2 separate regions of the Homo sapiens genome follow, and region 2 is linked to region 1. Evidence: fine-mapped expression QTL. Tissue or cell type: pancreas. Region 1 holds a variant in brackets; the other region holds the start of a gene. All regions are shown on one strand. Distances are from middle to middle.

Region 1 (8,096 bases):
TAACCCCGTCCCCGTGTCCCCCACCCCCTGCAAAGCACGCATTTGAGTGACCCCGTTCCCCTGTCCCCCACCCCCTGCAGAGCACGCATTTGAGCACTGGCAGGAGGACGCCTTCTTCGCCTCCCAGTTCCTGAATGGTCTCAACCCTGTCCTGATCCGCCGCTGTCACTACCTCCCAAAGAACTTCCCCGTCACTGATGCCATGGTGGCCTCAGTGTTGGGTCCTGGGACCAGCTTGCAGGCTGAGCTAGAGGTGAGGGGTGCAGGGATCTTGGCTCTGCACAGTCCCATCTCAGTGCCTTCACACCCGTCCCCTACTGGAGACAGAGGGGCACACTCACATTTGTTAGGGACCTACCGCGTGCTGCGTGCCAAGCACACTCTCCCGAAACACACTCCTCTCCCAGCCCTGAATCCTCTCCCTTCTACAACTGCACCCCCTTCATTTAGAAAACCAGGTGGCAGCCCCAGATCTCCTTTCTTCTGCAGAAGGGCTCCCTGTTCTTGGTGGATCACGGCATCCTCTCTGGCATCCAGACCAATGTCATTAATGGGAAGCCTCAGTTCTCTGCGGCCCCAATGACCCTGCTATACCAGAGCCCAGGCTGCGGGCCGCTGCTGCCTCTCGCCATCCAGGTATGCAGTCAGGCAGGGGCAGGGCAGCGTGAAGAAGAGTCAGGAGAATGGTTGGAAGACACTCATGGCTGCCTCTCTCCCCACCTGCCTCCCCCCAGCTCAGCCAGACCCCCGGCCCAAACAGCCCCATCTTCCTGCCCACTGATGACAAGTGGGACTGGTTGCTGGCCAAGACCTGGGTGCGCAATGCCGAGTTCTCCTTCCATGAGGCCCTCACGCACCTGCTGCACTCACATCTGCTGCCTGAGGTCTTCACCCTGGCTACCCTGCGTCAGCTGCCCCACTGCCACCCTCTCTTCAAGGTCAGTGGCTTGACAAGGTGGCCCAGCCTGTGCCCATGCCTCTGTGCCTCTTCTAAGCAGCCTTTCCTCACATGGCCCTATCCATGCAAGCTGGGATGCAGAGCCCCCGTCCGCTTCAGCAGCATCTCCTGGCACAACTCCCCTGGAAGCCTGCTATCCAGCAGGCCCTAAGTAACATAAATGCAGCACCCCAGAAAGGCTCTCGAAGGGAGATCAGGCAGCATCAACAGCCGTCATAGAAGCCCAAATCTTAGGAAGGGGAAGGACCTGGGGCTGGCAGGTGCCAAAGTTTGAACATGGCTTTGAGAGACCAACAAGTTCTCTGCAGATACTTCTGGGGTAGGGGAGGGCTGGGTGGGAGGCCCCCGTGCTCTAGGGTGGGTTCTGTAGGTTTCCTAGACCCTGCTAGCTTTCAGACGGCATGGATTCGAGGCATCTCCTCTGTGAAGGGCAGGATGGCCCCCTCCCAGGGTCCACCCACAGTCGCTGCTCAGATTCTCTGATCCTTCTAGACTTCTCCTGGGTCCCAGATGCGGGCCCTACTCTGTGCTCTTCTGTACTAGCTGGTTCTTTCTGACTATCTGCAGCTTCTGAGGCCTGGCGCTCAGAGGTGGGCTCTGGTGGACGGCTCCACATTGCCAGGCCCACAGGCCCTGGTTTTCCTAGTGCCTTCCCTGCCTAGGGGCTAGGAAATCACAGGATGCCAGAGCCGGAAGACACAGGGCTCAGCCACATCAGCACCCACATTTGACAAAACAACCTGAGGCTCAGGGAGAGGAAGGAGCACGCCTGAGCTCCCAGAACAAGCTGCTGGTGGAGCCCAGCAGGAACTCCAGGGCTCAGACCCCTGTCCCAGGCTGCCTCCTCTCATTCTTGTTGCCTCTTTCCAAGTGACTTGCAGGGCTGGTGCCTGTGTGGGGGAAGGTCTGGGGCCAGAACAACCCAGGCCTCCCCTAGCTCTGCCATTTTCCTGCCATGCAGCTGCTGATCCCGCACACCCGATACACCCTGCACATCAACACACTCGCCCGGGAGCTGCTTATCGTGCCAGGGCAGGTGGTGGACAGGGTGAGAGCTGTGTTGGGGAGGGAGTAGGCAGGCCACTCCTTCAATGTGACGAATTTGAGGTCCTGGGGTAGGAGTGGCCCATCTCCCCGACACCAGTGCTACCTCCTGCTTCTGGAGCAAGGTCTGTAGGACCCAAGAGTCCTGTCTCTCAGTCCACAGGCATCGGCATTGAAGGCTTCTCTGAGTTGATACAGAGGAACATGAAGCAGCTGAACTATTCTCTCCTGTGTCTGCCTGAGGATATCCGGACCCGAGGAGTTGAAGACATCCCAGGCTACTACTACCGTGATGATGGGATGCAGATCTGGGGTGCAGTGGAACGGTGAGGGGCCGTCCCTGGAGAGCCGAGGGCTGGTCGGGGACGTGGGAAGACAGGAAAGGAGACTGAGGCCCCAGGGAGGCTCACGTTGAGGAGGAGGGCCAGACATTCATGATGCTAAGCAGAGGCATTCCTCAGAGCGGGTCGGGGTTGGAGGCTGGACCTGAACCTGGATGCATTGCAGCTTTGTCTCTGAAATCATCGGTATCTACTACCCAAGTGATGAGTCTGTCCAAGATGACAGAGAGCTCCAGGCCTGGGTCAGAGAGATCTTCTCCAAGGGCTTCCTAAACCAGGAGAGCTCAGGTACAGGGACCTCAGCCCTCAGGCGCATTTGAGTGAGCCCATCCCCGTGTCCCCCACCCCCTGCAGAGCACGCATTTGAGTGGCCCCGTCCCCGTGTCCCCCACCCTCAAGGCTCACCCTCAAGCCTCCGCAGCAGGGTCCTCAGGTCCCTGGAAGCCCCATCCCAGCCCAGCTCTCCTTGCAGGTATACCCTCCTCACTGGAGACCCGGGAAGCCCTGGTGCAGTATGTCACCATGGTGATATTCACCTGCTCCGCCAAGCATGCGGCTGTCAGTGCAGGGCAGGTGAGGAAAGGCCAGCGCCCGAGGTGGCAGGCTGGAGGTGACCCAGCTCCTCAGCCTCATTCTGCCCTCTCGGCCTTCAGTTTGACTCCTGTGCTTGGATGCCCAACCTGCCACCCAGCATGCAGCTGCCACCACCCACCTCCAAAGGCCTGGCAACATGCGAGGGCTTCATAGCCACCCTCCCACCTGTCAATGCCACATGTGATGTCATCCTTGCTCTCTGGTTGCTGAGCAAGGAGCCTGGAGACCAAGTGAGTGTGGGGCTGGGGGCCAGGCTGGGCCAAATTGGGGTAAGAGAGGGTGTGATGTTTACCCTGCTGGCCCAGACCCAACCCTGCCATCAGGTAGCGGGTCCCTTTGCCCCACTGACCCTCCAGTGGGACACATGAGCCTTGGACATTTCACAGTGAAGGTCAAATGGCCAAATGCGATGATGCGGAGCCACTCTCAGTAGCAAGGGGAACGTGTAATTATGCTTCTTGGAAATTCCGAATTGAGCTTTCATTCCCCGAAAGCTTCCTGCAGATAAGCTTTACATGGATATCTGTTTAAGAGGAGGGACATGGATCAGGCCCCATCGAGGGCTACTTCAGGTCCCACACTTGGGGGCTAGGGCCAGAGCTGGCTAAGGCAAGTTGCAGCTGCTCAGATAGTGGGGACCAGGAGTCTGGGATGCAGGACCTCAGCAGCCGCCTCACCCAACCTTGTGGTGGATCCTCAGAGGCCCCTGGGCACCTATCCGGATGAGCACTTCACAGAGGAGGCCCCTCGGCGGAGCATCGCCACCTTCCAGAGCCGCCTGGCCCAGATCTCGAGGGGCATCCAGGAGCGGAACCAGGGCCTGGTGCTGCCCTACACCTACCTAGACCCTCCCCTCATCGAGAACAGCGTCTCCATCTAAATCCCAGGGGAACACAGGCCCAGATGACATCCCTTTGACCACATCGCTCTAGGATAACTGGCACCCAGAGAAAAGGACTCCTCAGAAAAAACAGGCCCCCATGTGCCTCTCCTGGGACAACCAGACTCTGTAACTCACCCCCACCACCATACACACACACAAAAACAGAAACAAAATCAAAACAGAGAAAGCAGAAAATCTACCAAGAACAGAGTCTCAGGACAGAACCACTGAGTCTTTTGGAGGCTCCAAGCCTCAAAGTGCCCGCAGAGCCCACCTTGAGGGTTTTGCTAGTTGGTTTTGTTTTGCGTTTTACAGCCGTGGGGGGAAGCACATAATCCCGCCCCAGGGCCCACTAGCATCCACTGATTGGACCTTATGGTCACCCAACTCAAGGACAGCCACCAAGAAGTGGCTGCCAAAGAGACTGGGCGCAGTGGCTCATGCCCATAATCCCAGCACTTTGGGAGATGGAGGCGGGAAAATCATTTGAGGTCAGAAGTTCAAGGCCAGCCTGGACGACATAGCGAGACTCCACCTCTACCAAAAAATAAAAATTAAAAAACAAATTGGGCCTGGTGGTATGTGGCTGTGGTCCTAACTACTCGAGAGGCTGAGGTGGGAGGACTGCTTGAGCCCAGGAGTTTGAGGCTGCAGTGAGCTATGATTGTGCCACGGCACTCCAGCCCAGGTAACCGAGCAAGACCCCGTTTCTATTAAAAAAAAAAAAAAAAAAAAACAAGGCCGGGCGTGGTGGCTCACACCTATAATCCCAGCACCTTGGAAGGTCAAGGTAGAGGGATCACCTGAGGTCAGGAGTTCAAGACCAGCCTGGCCAACGTGGTGAAACCCGGTCTCCACCCAAAATACAAAAAATAGCTAGGCGTGGTGGCACACATCTATAATCCCAGCAACTTGGAAGGCTGAGATAGGAGAATCACTTGAACCTGGGAGGCAGAGGTTGCAGTGAGCCCAGATCATGCCACCGCACTCCAGCCTGGGTGACAGAGTGAGACTCCGTCTCAGAAAAACAAAAATGAAAACAAAAAAT[A/G]CCCAAGAGGTTGATTGTGACCTACTGTCTCAGCTTTAAAGTGAACAAAACACTGAAAAAGGGTCACTGGGAGCCAGGCAGAATGAGAACACCCAGTCGGCACAGGCAGTGCCTATGTATACTTTCTTAAAAACATCCCCTAAAGTTAAAGACTTGTACGTTATAAGGCAGGTTCCGTTTCCAGAGAATCAGAAAACATTGTCATATCTCTAATCATACTTTGCTGCTAGATTTCATCATCACTGATGGATTTACATTTCATACACATTCTTTCATTCTGTTTTTCTTTTTTTTCTGGCTCATAGTCGGTGAGCATCCATTAAGGTAAAAAAGTGTCCTTTAAAAAAAAAAAAAAAACTCCCGTGGCGACACCTGGTAGACATCACCTTAATCAAATAATCCAGGTGAGTTCAGGCGTGGTGGCTCACACCTGTAATCCCAGCACTTTGGGAGGCCGAGGCGGGCGAATAACTTGAGGCCAGGTGTTAAAGACCAGCCTGGCCAACATGGCAAAACCCCATCTCTACTAAAAGTACAAAAACTAGCCGGGCTTGGTAGCAGGCGCCTGTAATCCCAGCTATTTAGGAGGCTGCGGCAGGAGAATCGCTTGAACCCAGGAGGCAGAGGTTGCAGTGAGCCGAGATCATGCTGCTGTATTCCAGCCTGAGTGACAGGGAGAGACTCTGTGTCAAAACAAAAAAAAAAAATCCAGGTGAACTTGCTGATACCATGTTGCTTTGCTCTAATGTTGTAAGAAGAGCACCTCATCTCTGTGGTTTCTTCTAGAAACTCATAACTACAGTCTAGTGATGAGAAAAATACAGACAAACCCAGATTGAGGGACATTCTGCAAAATACTTGACCAGCACTTTCCAAATTTTAAAATTGCCTTTGCTTTTTTGGTGTAAAAACAAAATGCATCCTTTACAATTCATCTAATGATTTCCATCACTACTACACATTGCAGGCATGAGTGCTTTTGTTTTTCAGTTTCACTGATTTTTATAAAACAATGTGGACAAAAATGCAATTTATATACTATAACTGCATAAACATTACCATTGGAAAAAAACAGAACAGTGCCTCAGAAAGGGTAGGGCTGACTGGCAAGTGGCATTTGACATGCTCATTCCTCGTTGAGAGTGAGTATACCGAAAGTGATTTAGAGATATATGTATCTGTCAAACTTCTTTCCATCAATTCCTGCTAACTTAAGCAATAAAGGAGTTAATGGAAAAGAAATGGAGTTCCTTGAGAAGTTAAAGAGCTGACTATGCAGGCCAGGCGCAGGGACTCAAGCCTGTGATCCCAGCACTGGAAGTCCAAGGCAGGAGGATTATTTGAGCCCAGGACTTCAAGACAGCTTGGGCAGTATAGTGAGACCCCATCTCTTCAAAAAAAATTAAAAAGTAGCAGAGCGTGGTCGCTCACGTCTATAGCCCTGGCTATTCGGGAGGCTGAGGAGGGAGGACTGCTTGATCCACGGAGGAAGAGGTTGCAGTGATCACACCACTGCATTCTAGTAATCCAGACTGGGCAACAGAGCGAGATCTTGTCTCAAAAAAAAAAAAGGCCGGGCGCGGTGGCCCACACCCATAATCCCAGCACTTTGGGAGGCCGAGGCGGGTGCATTACCTGAAGTCAGGAGTTCAAGACCAGCCTTACCAACATGGTGAAACCCCGTCTCTACTAAAACTACAAAAATTAGCTGGGCATGGTGGCAGGCGCCTGTAATCCCAGCTACTTGGGAGGCCGAGGCAGGAGAATCACTTGAACCCGGGAGGCAGAGGTTGCAGTGAGCCGAGATTGCACCACTGCACTCCAGCCTCGGCAACAGAGTGAGACCCCATCTCAAAAAAAAAAAAAAAAAAAGTTAATCATGCAGTTTCAGGAAAGAAACTGAAACCCAGGAAGCTCCAGGCATCTGGGGGACAAGGGACAAGAACTGATGGATGCTGTCCTCAGGCACTGCCATGGGAATAATGAAGCGCCTACCATTTTTCATCCTTGAGTTATTTGCCTCCATATTCAGTTCCGTGAGAGAGGCTGTTTGACGTAACACGGAGCAGCAGAGACCACTGGTTCCTGGAACAGAGAGAGTTTATGTTCACCCAATACCTCATGTACTTCCCAACATTTCCCAGCCTGCCTTAAAGTTAGATTGAGGCCATGTGACTAATTCTGGCCAGAACACTAATTCGCAGAGGAGTGATGTGTGTCCTTTCCAAGATGGGACAGTTACGAGCTGGTGTGCCTCCTTCATCCTTCTATTGCCCCATTGCCTATCCCTCGGAGGCATTTCCAGCTGACCTAGCCATCCTGACCTCTATTGCTGGACTTCCAGTTCAGGAGGACAAGGTTCACAACTGCCCATCACAGCGCCGGCACACTGCAGGTGCTTGGTAAGTACGTGCTGAATGAAGGAATTAATTCCTGCACAAATAATTCCTAAAACCCTGTGGTGCCCATCGCTTACCTGTGTCTCCCCAACCAGACTGTGAGCTTCTTGAATGCAGGAGCTGGGTCTCACTCAACTTGCCAGGCCTCATGCCCAGCGCTGCATTGACACAGAGTGATACCCAACAAATGTTTGTTTAATGTTGGATGAAGGGAAAGTGATTGGATGGTTGCATGCGTGGATGTACTGGTGAGTTGGAGGGCAGTTGCACCCCAGTCAATAAACTGGTGTTTGTTTCAGTATATATCTTTTGGGATCAACTATCATTTCCAGGAGAAACTGCAGCGTCCAAGGCAGCATAGCCGTGAAAATCCAAGCAGTCAGTCCCTAACCACTCTTGGAGAAGCCACCACCACCTCCTCTGCCCAGGGCCTGTGAGCTTGTGAGCCTGTGAGGTCCCCCCGCCACACACACCACACAACCCTAGCCCTAGAGCTCTCAGCTGGCCTCCCCGCCTTGAGAAGAGAAGGTTCTTCTCTTCTACAGAGAACTTCACCTCTACAGAGAACATTCTCTACAGAGAACATTCACCTCTAGGGATATCCAGTTAATGCTCCAGAATGGTGGCCTCCTTGGGCTATGATGGATGGTAAATAGATAGAAGATAGATAGTAGATAGATAGATGATGACAGATAGATAGATAGATAGATAGATAGATAGATAGATAGATAGTAGATAGATAGAAGATAGATAGTAGATAGTAGATAGAAGATAGATAGATGATAGATAGTAGATAGTAGACAGATAGTAGACAGATAGTAGATAGAAG
Region 2 (8,096 bases), 39 kb after region 1:
AAATTAGCCGGGCGTGGTGGCACTCGCCTGTAGTCCCAGCTACTCAGGAGGCTGAGGCAGGAGAATCACTTGAACCTGGAAGGTGGAGGTTGCAGTGAGCCGAGATTGCGCCACTGCACTCCAGGGCGACAGAGCGAGACTCCATCTCAAAAAAAAAAATTTGAAAATATGCCCAAATGTCCAGCTAGTCAGTGGAAGAACTGAGACCTAAGTCCAGGTCCGTCTTTCTCCAGCACCCTGGCTGGTGGTCCCCAGGCTGGCCTGTGCCTACCGCTGCAGCCCATCATTTCCCCTCAAGTCCCTTACCTCACCACCCTCTCCCTCCTCCACCTGCCTCAGCTCATGTTGTATTCTGGATGAACAGTGCTCCCTGGAGTTGTGCAACCCAGAGACCTAGCTCGTTTTCATCCCCAGGGCGGAAGACTCACTCCTTTGAGGGCCCTATGGGTGACTCAAGTCTCCCTGTCCTGTTGCGTGGCAGCGGCCCCACCCAACCCCATTCCTGCCTGGCCACCAGCATCACCCTGCCTGTCCCCTGCTTCCATGTCACCCAGACCTGTCACTGCAGGAAGATGCTCTGTGTCCCCAGTGAGACCCTCCCCTTGGCATGCTCACCATCTCCCAGGCTTTCCTCGCCTCTCCTTTCCCCAGCTCAGGCCCTGTTCCCCAATCCTGGGGGAAGATTCCAGCACAGGGCAATGAGAAACGGAAGAGAGGTAGTCAGCTGCAGGGAGGATGGGGCTTCGGGCCCTGGGTGTCCTCAGCTCAGCCTTTCCCTCCCATTCGCCTCAAGGGAAGCCAACAGACACTCAGGTGGTGGAACTGGGAGATAAGAGAGGACAGGCCCCCAGTCCTCATGCAGCACCACAAATTAGGAAGCTGACCCCAGCCCACCACACAAGGGGCTCTGGCAGGGGTGGGTGCAAGGAGCTCAGCCACTCCGGTCCTATGTCTCTCCCATGGGAGTAACCAAGCAAGTGGAAAACCCACTGGGCAGCCTTGGCCAGCCTTAACCTTGGAGAAACCCTGACAGTCTATCTGAATAACAGGGCCCCTATTAGATAGATCCTTACTGGATTAAGGGGGGCCTTTTGGAGTAACAGTGCATCCTGTTAGAGAAATATGGTGTCCTGTTGGGAAAATAGGGAGTCCTTTGGAGCAATAGAACATCCCATCAGTCTAAAAAATGCTCAATTAGAAAACTGGGGCTCATGCCTGTAATGCCAGCACTTTGGGAGGCTGAGGCAGGCAGATCACCTGAGTTCAGGAGTTTGAGACCAGCCTGGCCAACAAAGTGAAACCCCATCTCTACTAAAAATGCAAAAACTAGCATCAGGAGGCTGAGGCAGGAGAATCGCTTGAACCTGGGAGGTGGAGGTTGCAGTGAGCCGAGATCGTGCCATTGCACTCCAGCCTGGGCAACAAGAGTGAAACTCCGTCTCAAAAAAAGAAAGCCAGGGCGTCATAATTATAAGACCGCAGCACCACGGAGACCTGTTGAACTCAAAGGGCTTCTAAATGGGATAGCAAGGTGCTGGTTGGAATAATGGGGCATCCTGTTATAGTAACAGAATCCTGCTGGAGTAACAGGGCGTCTTTCTGGAGCGCATATGATTGGCATCATAAATAGGCCTCCTGTGAGAGTCCTGAGCCTGTACTTAGCATCACAAGGGGTATTTTTAACGTGGCCGGGCATCTTATAGGAGTCAGGGAGGACTGGAGAGGTAGCGGGGAGCGCACTCTGGGAATGCTGTCTGCTGCCAGATGGGGATGCTGAGGGTAGCTGCTGGGCCTCAGGCACCTCTCTTCCTCCAATGTGCAGCCCCAAGCTGAGCTCAGGGCAGCAGCACTGACTGAGGGAAATGTGTGACAGTGGCAGGAGAGCCCAGGAGTCCCTGGTGGGGCTGGGCCCCCCTCTGGCTTGATGGGAGCCTGGGTGCCATGCCAGGGTAGCAGGCTGGAGCTAGAGGCCTCACGGCCATAGGATGGAGCAGGGTGATGAGGGCTTACCTGTGGCCTCCCGGAGTGCCAGGGTCTCGTAGCCATCCATCCACTGGTAGGCGGGGAAGTGGTAGATACGGCCGTTGGGGGCACAGATCTGCACATAGTTGCAGTACCAAGGGTCCTTGGGGAAGAAGGCGTACCGCTCTTTGTGCAGGCGGATGATGATGAGCTCACCCAGGTCCTGAGGGCACTGCACGGTGTACTGGCCCACCTAGGCAGGATGCAAGCCTGGCTGAGTGGGCAGGACTTCACCCCGGCTCCCAGGCCGCCCACCCCTCTGGCCCCTCACCTAGGCCCTGCTCATGCTGCGCAATGCTCACCTCCCTGGACTGACGGAGGGACAGGATATTGACCTGATCATTGAGCTTCCTTCTGACTTCTCCAGCTTGGGGGTCTCCTACTGGATTCCTCTACCCAGGGCTATGTAGGACTCCAGCCCCTCCTTCTCTCCATCCCCAGCTCCTGTCTTCTCCCACTCCCCTCTCCAGGCACCTGAGGTTGCAGGAACCCTTCAGACCCCTGGGGACTTGGGTACCACTCTACAGTTTTCGAGTGGGGAGAGGCCCAGCCAGCCCCTTCTCCCATTCATCAATGAAGATGCAGATATTCAGAATGGCCACATAGATAGAGTGACCTATTAAGGTCGCCTAGCAGCAGGTGGCTGGGTCTGACTGAAAATCAGGTCTGAGGACCCGCAAAGCGTGCCTTCCACTGGACAGGCTGGTCTGATGCCATTTTAAGTCACAGAGAATCCAGTGCAAATGTGAGACAGTTAGGAGGCAGCTGAATTAGGAAGAGTGACTGAGAATGGAAGAGAGAGGGATGCGGGAGAGGGGGTAAGACAGAAAGGGGAGGAGAGCAAAGGGGAAGGAAAGCAGGTGGAAAGGATTGAGAAAAGAGAGATGCAGGATAGGCAGAGACAGGGAGAGAGGGCTGAGGAAGAGGGAGAGAGAAGAAAAGGATGGGGAGGGAGATGAGGAATGCCTGAAAGGGTTAGAGATGAAGGAGCAGGATGGAGAAGGATGGCCCAGAGATCTGGGACATGGGCGAGGGGCTGGAAGCCAGCTCTGGACAAGGCGTGTAGAGCCACTGGGGAGCCCACTGCCTTCGGAGCTGTGCCTCAGCTCTCCAGCCTCTCCTCGCCAAGCTCAGCTCACCTGGCTCCCCCTGCGCACCTTCACCCCTCCCGGGGCCACAAAGACACACAGACACACACAGACACACACAGACACACACACACACACACACAGACACACACACACACACACACACACACACACTCTTACCGCCCCAGTTGCAAAGTCTCTCCCAAAGTGGTTCAGCAGCTGCTTATGGCTCTCTCCTTGTGTCCCCACAATGGTCAGTGAGATGGAGTCCCGTGTTCCCGACAAGAGGTCGGTGCCTGTGGCCACCCTGACTTTGTAGGTGGCCATGGCTGCTCTTCAGGAGGCAAGAGGGGCACTCAGTCCCAGACACCGTGGAGGGGCCACACGAAGGCCCAAGGCAGGCAAGAGAAGCCAGGCACAGAGTGGAGTGGACAGGGCTGGCCTCCGAGGTGCAGTGGTGAGGTGGCGAGGTGGGGTGACTAGGCCTGCCAGCCAAATTCTGGAAAAGCTGCTGCCCTTGGTGGCCGGGGTGGGTGCCGGGCAGGCCCAGGCGGAGCCCAGCTGGTGGTGAGTGAGCAGGTGTCTGGGCTCCAAGCCTTCTGGGAGCTGGTGGGGAGGAAGAGCAGGCAGGGCACTGGGCCTGCCTCTGAAAGGGCGGATAGAAGATGCCGTGGATGAAGGCGCCTTCAGGGTGGGGGAGCCAGTCCAGCCTGAGCCAGGGCCCTAGGGAAGTTGCGGGAGGGGGCAGGGTGTGGTCCCCAGATCTTTATCAGACTAATAAGCTCCTTCCTCCTGCCAGTCCCCATTGGCTACAGTGCCAGGCACCCCTACTAAGCAGGGCCATGGGCAGTGAGTGACTTGCATTGGTTCTGAGGCCACTGGTGGGCGGGGGAGGGGAGGGGGAGGGGCACTAAGTGGCAGCGCAGCTGGCCAGCCTCCAGGCCATTCCTCTCTGGGAAATGGGACAGGTAGTGGCCACAGTGAGAAAGCTGGCCTGTCCTTCTGCCCCAGGGCCCAGAGTCTGTGACTGGAAGGGTGGGAGGTGTTGAAGCTAGGGCTCGGGGACCACATGGGTGCCCAAAGGCCTGAAGATGCTGCGGGGAGGAACGATCAGGGTAGGAGAAGGGGATCTGTTGCTTCCTGTGGGGCCAGGATCCACTGGTGAGGGATTGGAGTTGGATATAAAATCAGAAGCCCAAAAAAAAAAAAAAAAAAACTAAATTAGAAGACAGAGTGAAATCTGGGGCATAAGAATTAAGTTAAATAGCTGGGCGTGGTGGCTCACGCCTGTAATCCCAGCACTTTAGAAAGCCAAGGCAGGTGGGTCACCTGAGCTCAAGAGTTCGAGACCAGCCTGGCCAACATGGTGAAACCTTGTCTCTACTAAAAATACAAAAATTAGCCAGGCGTGGTGGCATGCGCCTGTAGTCCCAGCTACTTGGGAGGCTGAGGCAGGAGAATCGCTTGAACTCAGGAGGCGGAAGTTGCAGTGAGTTGAGATCGTGCCACCGCACTCCAGCCTGGGCAACAGAGCAAGACTCCGTCTCCAAAAAAAAAAGACAAAAGAATTAAGTTAAATAATGGATTAATATGATCAATATTTTGTGGTATAATCATAAAATAGAATTCTACCCAGGAATAAAAAGAATGAACTGCAATGCGGATGAGTCTCACAAAGATGATACTGAGCAAAAAGAGCCAGACATTAAAGGGGATACGTTCTGTTATCCATTGATAGGAACTTCCAGAACCAGCAAAACTGAGCAATTCTCAGACAACCTCTACTGGTGAGTATCCCTGGCAGAGGGAGGCCATATAGGCTGCTGGAGGTGTTCTTATCTTGATCTGAGGGGCGTCTAGGGTACTTCATTCATTTCATTATGTGTTATCCTTTAATTTCATAAAGTACATACCCTCACTTCCCTCCCAAAAAAGAATGAAGCTAGGAAGAGGGCTGGAGGCAGGGCTGAGCTCCAGTGGAACTGTGTTTGTTGGGAACCAGGTCGTTCCTCCCTCAGATATGTAGTGAGCACGGTGCACGGCGTTCTAGGCACTGCAGAGGCAGAGAAGAAATGAAACATACATGGAGCTTACGGAATAGCTGGGAAAGAAGTGAAAGAAACAGTAAACAAGAATTTGTTCACTATAATTTTGGATACTAAGTGCTCTGAAGAAAATAAGCGTGGGAGGTTGGGATTGGGAACTAGTTGCTGATAGAATCACAGAAGTCAGAGCCGCAGGATAGGGAGAAGGTGTTAGGAGTAAGGTGAAGAGCATTATGAGAGAGTCAGAGATAGACTCTCCAAAGATAGGATTTGGGACCCAGGGAGAGTGAGGAGGCAGGCACGTTCCTATTCCCTTTTTCTGGACCTGTCCTCTTTCCTTTCACCTCCGAGGAGCAGCTTCTGTCAACCAGGAAGCATAGCCCTGCTTTCCTCCCTGATGGCACGCTTCCATCACCATCGAAGGAAGGTCATTCAATGCCCAGGCCAAGTTAGGGTCAGAGGGGGCTGGGATTGTGAGATGAAGAGAAGGTTCCAGTAGGTTCCAGACTGGATGTGGAATGGGGTCGAAACTGCAATTCAGGTTTAGGTTAGAGACACAGATGTGGCTGGAGTTGGGGATTGAAATGATCTTTTCCAGACCCAAATCTGTTCACATCACTCTCTATGTTCCCTCCTCCCAACCCTGATCAAGCCTGGCAGTGGCTCCTCTTTACCTTTGGGACAGTGACACCATCCCCTCCCGTGGCCCCCACGGCCTGCCTGATTGGCTTCACCCCTCACATTCCCCTTTGCTCTCTTCTGTCTGGGACCACGTGCCTTTCATTCATTCATCAACAGACACTGGCCGAACCCCTACTGTGTGTTCAGCGCTGTGTCAGGTCCTGAAAATACAATGCGATCAAAGCAAACCCCTGCACCCATGGAGCTTGCCTTCAAGTGAGGGAAGCAGACAATATTACCTAGTAACCAAATACATTAAATAGTATGTTAAATAGTGATAAGTGCTGAAGAGAAAAGAGAGAACAGGGAAGGATAATATAAAAAATAGAGGAGTGCCGGGCATGGTGGCTCATGCCTGTAATCCCAGCACTTTGGGAGGCTGAGGTGGGCGGATCACCTGAGGTCAGGAGTTCGGGACCAGCCTGACCAACATGGAGTAACCCCGTCTCTACTAAAAATAAAAATTAGCCGGGCATGGTGGCGCATGCCTGTAATCCCAGCTACTCGGGGGCTGAGGCAGGAGAATAGCTTGAACCCAGGAAGCAGAGGTTGCAGTGAGCCAAGGTCATGCCATTGCTATCAAGCCTGGGCAACAAAAGCGAAAATCCATCTCAGAAAAAAGAAAAGGAGGATATTTTAGATACAGAGTGGCCAAGGAGGGCTCCTTGGGAAGAAGACTTTTGAGTAAAGACCTGAAGGAAGTGAAGTCAGCTCGTCACCATCCCAGGGCCTTGGCACATGCTGTTCCCTCTCTACCTCTCAAACTGAGGTCACGTTTCCTCTTCCTCCTGATCTTAGCTCAATAATTGCTTTTTCCAGGAAAGCCAAATTTCACTATACATGGCTCTCACAGCACTATAGCTAACATCTTTGATTGATGTCTGTTTTCTCTAATAAATTAGTCCATACTTTTTTTTGGTTTTGTCCCCATCTCCTGGTGTCATACTTGGTACCTGGGAGACACCGAAAACATAGTTGAATGGGTTAATGACAAGGACAAGGTCAGGGCTGGGGATTGAATCGATGATGGCTTTGGAGTTATGGTGAAGATCCGAAGAGAGCTGACTTGGGCTCAGGGTGAGAGAAGGGGCAAGGCGTGGTGTAGGGGAGGGAAAGGGGTTGGGTGGGGAGGGAGGGAGGAGAGGGGAGAAGGCTGAGGATGAGGGTTGTGCCCAGCTCTGGGTGGCAGGGCTGGCTGTCCTGGGCTGCAGACAGAAGCCGTCCAGCTGGATCTCCCCCCTGGGATCTCCCTCCTCAACCACCTCGATGACTCTTGGAGGATGCTGGGAGCCTGAAGATGCAAATCTTAAGATGCAAATTCCATGCAAATTCTCCCAGCTTCCTCTTTCTAATCTCTCCCCTTTGCCCTGTGTCCCCAGGGGGCTGCTGAGGCTTGGTGAGAAGCAGGGCAGTGGACTGGGCAAACTGAGTCATATCCTGCTACCAATAGGTCTCCTCCAACCCAAATCCCAGGGTGGCCCTGGGTTTGCTCAGGGCTCCAGTGTGGAGTGGGAATTAGGTTCCTGAGGGAGACGGAGATGGAGGCAGGGATGCTGAGGATGTCAATGTGGCTGGGGCAGGGACAGGGACGGGATCAGGCATGAGGATGTAGATGGGGCACTCCCCAGCTATGACCAAAACGTAGACGCGTGACTCTTGATAGGTGCTCATTGGGCTGAAGAACTGGTTCTCCTGGACCAGGGGCGGGAGCCAGTGAGGAGGAGAGGTTTCTGGGAAGGATTCACACTCACTGGGGTTGCTAACTAGGGGCCATCCACACAGGAAGCTGAGTTCTCACTGCTGGGGTATCCCCCGTGCCTGACCCCACCCCAAGCCCTGCAAGGCAAGGAGCAACTAACTCCTGGGGACCCACTCTCCTAAGACACAGAGAAAGAAAAATCAAATCACGCCACTCCCCTGCTTAAAGTTCACCAGAGCTTAAAATGGGGTTGTCCGTAGAAATGAATCCAAGGGCCAGGCGCGGTGGCTCATGCCCATAATCCCAGCACTTTGGGAGGCCAACACAGGCGGATCATGAGGTCGGGAGTTCAAGACCAGCCTGACCAACATGGTAAAACCCCGTCTCTACTAAAAATACAAAAATTAGCCGGGCGTTGTGGCACGCGCCTGTAATCCCAGCTATTCAGGAGGCTGAGACGGGAGAATCGCTTGAACAGGGGAGGTGGAGATTGCAGTAAGCCAAGATAGCGCCACTGCACTCCAGCCTGGGCAATAGAGAGAGACTCCGTCTCAAAAAAAA

Which allele goes with the higher level. Positions count from the first base shown, and alleles are read on the strand shown. Sizes are in standard deviations (SD) of each study's normalised expression.
As copies of G replace A in region 1, the expression in pancreas of the gene that starts at base 3,711 in region 2 goes up (small effect, 0.36 SD a copy in GTEx).

What was found. PIP is the estimated chance that this variant, and not a neighbour inherited with it, causes the effect.
Region 2: it holds the start of ALOX12B, and the variant in region 1 is fine-mapped to the expression of ALOX12B in pancreas (GTEx, PIP 0.94).

The regions. Positions count from the first base shown.
Region 1 is chr17:8,044,749-8,052,844 of GRCh38, forward strand. It overlaps ALOX15B (arachidonate 15-lipoxygenase type B), which reads left to right. Exons shown (of 14, transcript NM_001141.3): 6 at 81-253; 7 at 490-636; 8 at 735-938; 9 at 1,920-2,006; 10 at 2,159-2,328; 11 at 2,510-2,631; 12 at 2,816-2,916; 13 at 2,997-3,167; 14 at 3,638-4,386. The coding sequence ends at 3,817. Among named protein-coding and RNA genes, the nearest start is that of ALOX15B, 9.7 kb to the left of the region's middle. The variant A/G (reference allele first, on the strand shown) is at 4,869.
Region 2 is chr17:8,084,006-8,092,101 of GRCh38, forward strand. It overlaps ALOX12B (arachidonate 12-lipoxygenase, 12R type), which reads right to left and starts at 3,711. Exons shown (of 15, transcript NM_001139.3): 1 at 3,291-3,711; 2 at 2,011-2,215. The coding sequence starts at 3,437. It overlaps MIR4314 (microRNA 4314), which reads left to right and starts at 4,051; the gene lies at 4,051-4,142. RefSeq lists an enhancer at 2,739-3,487.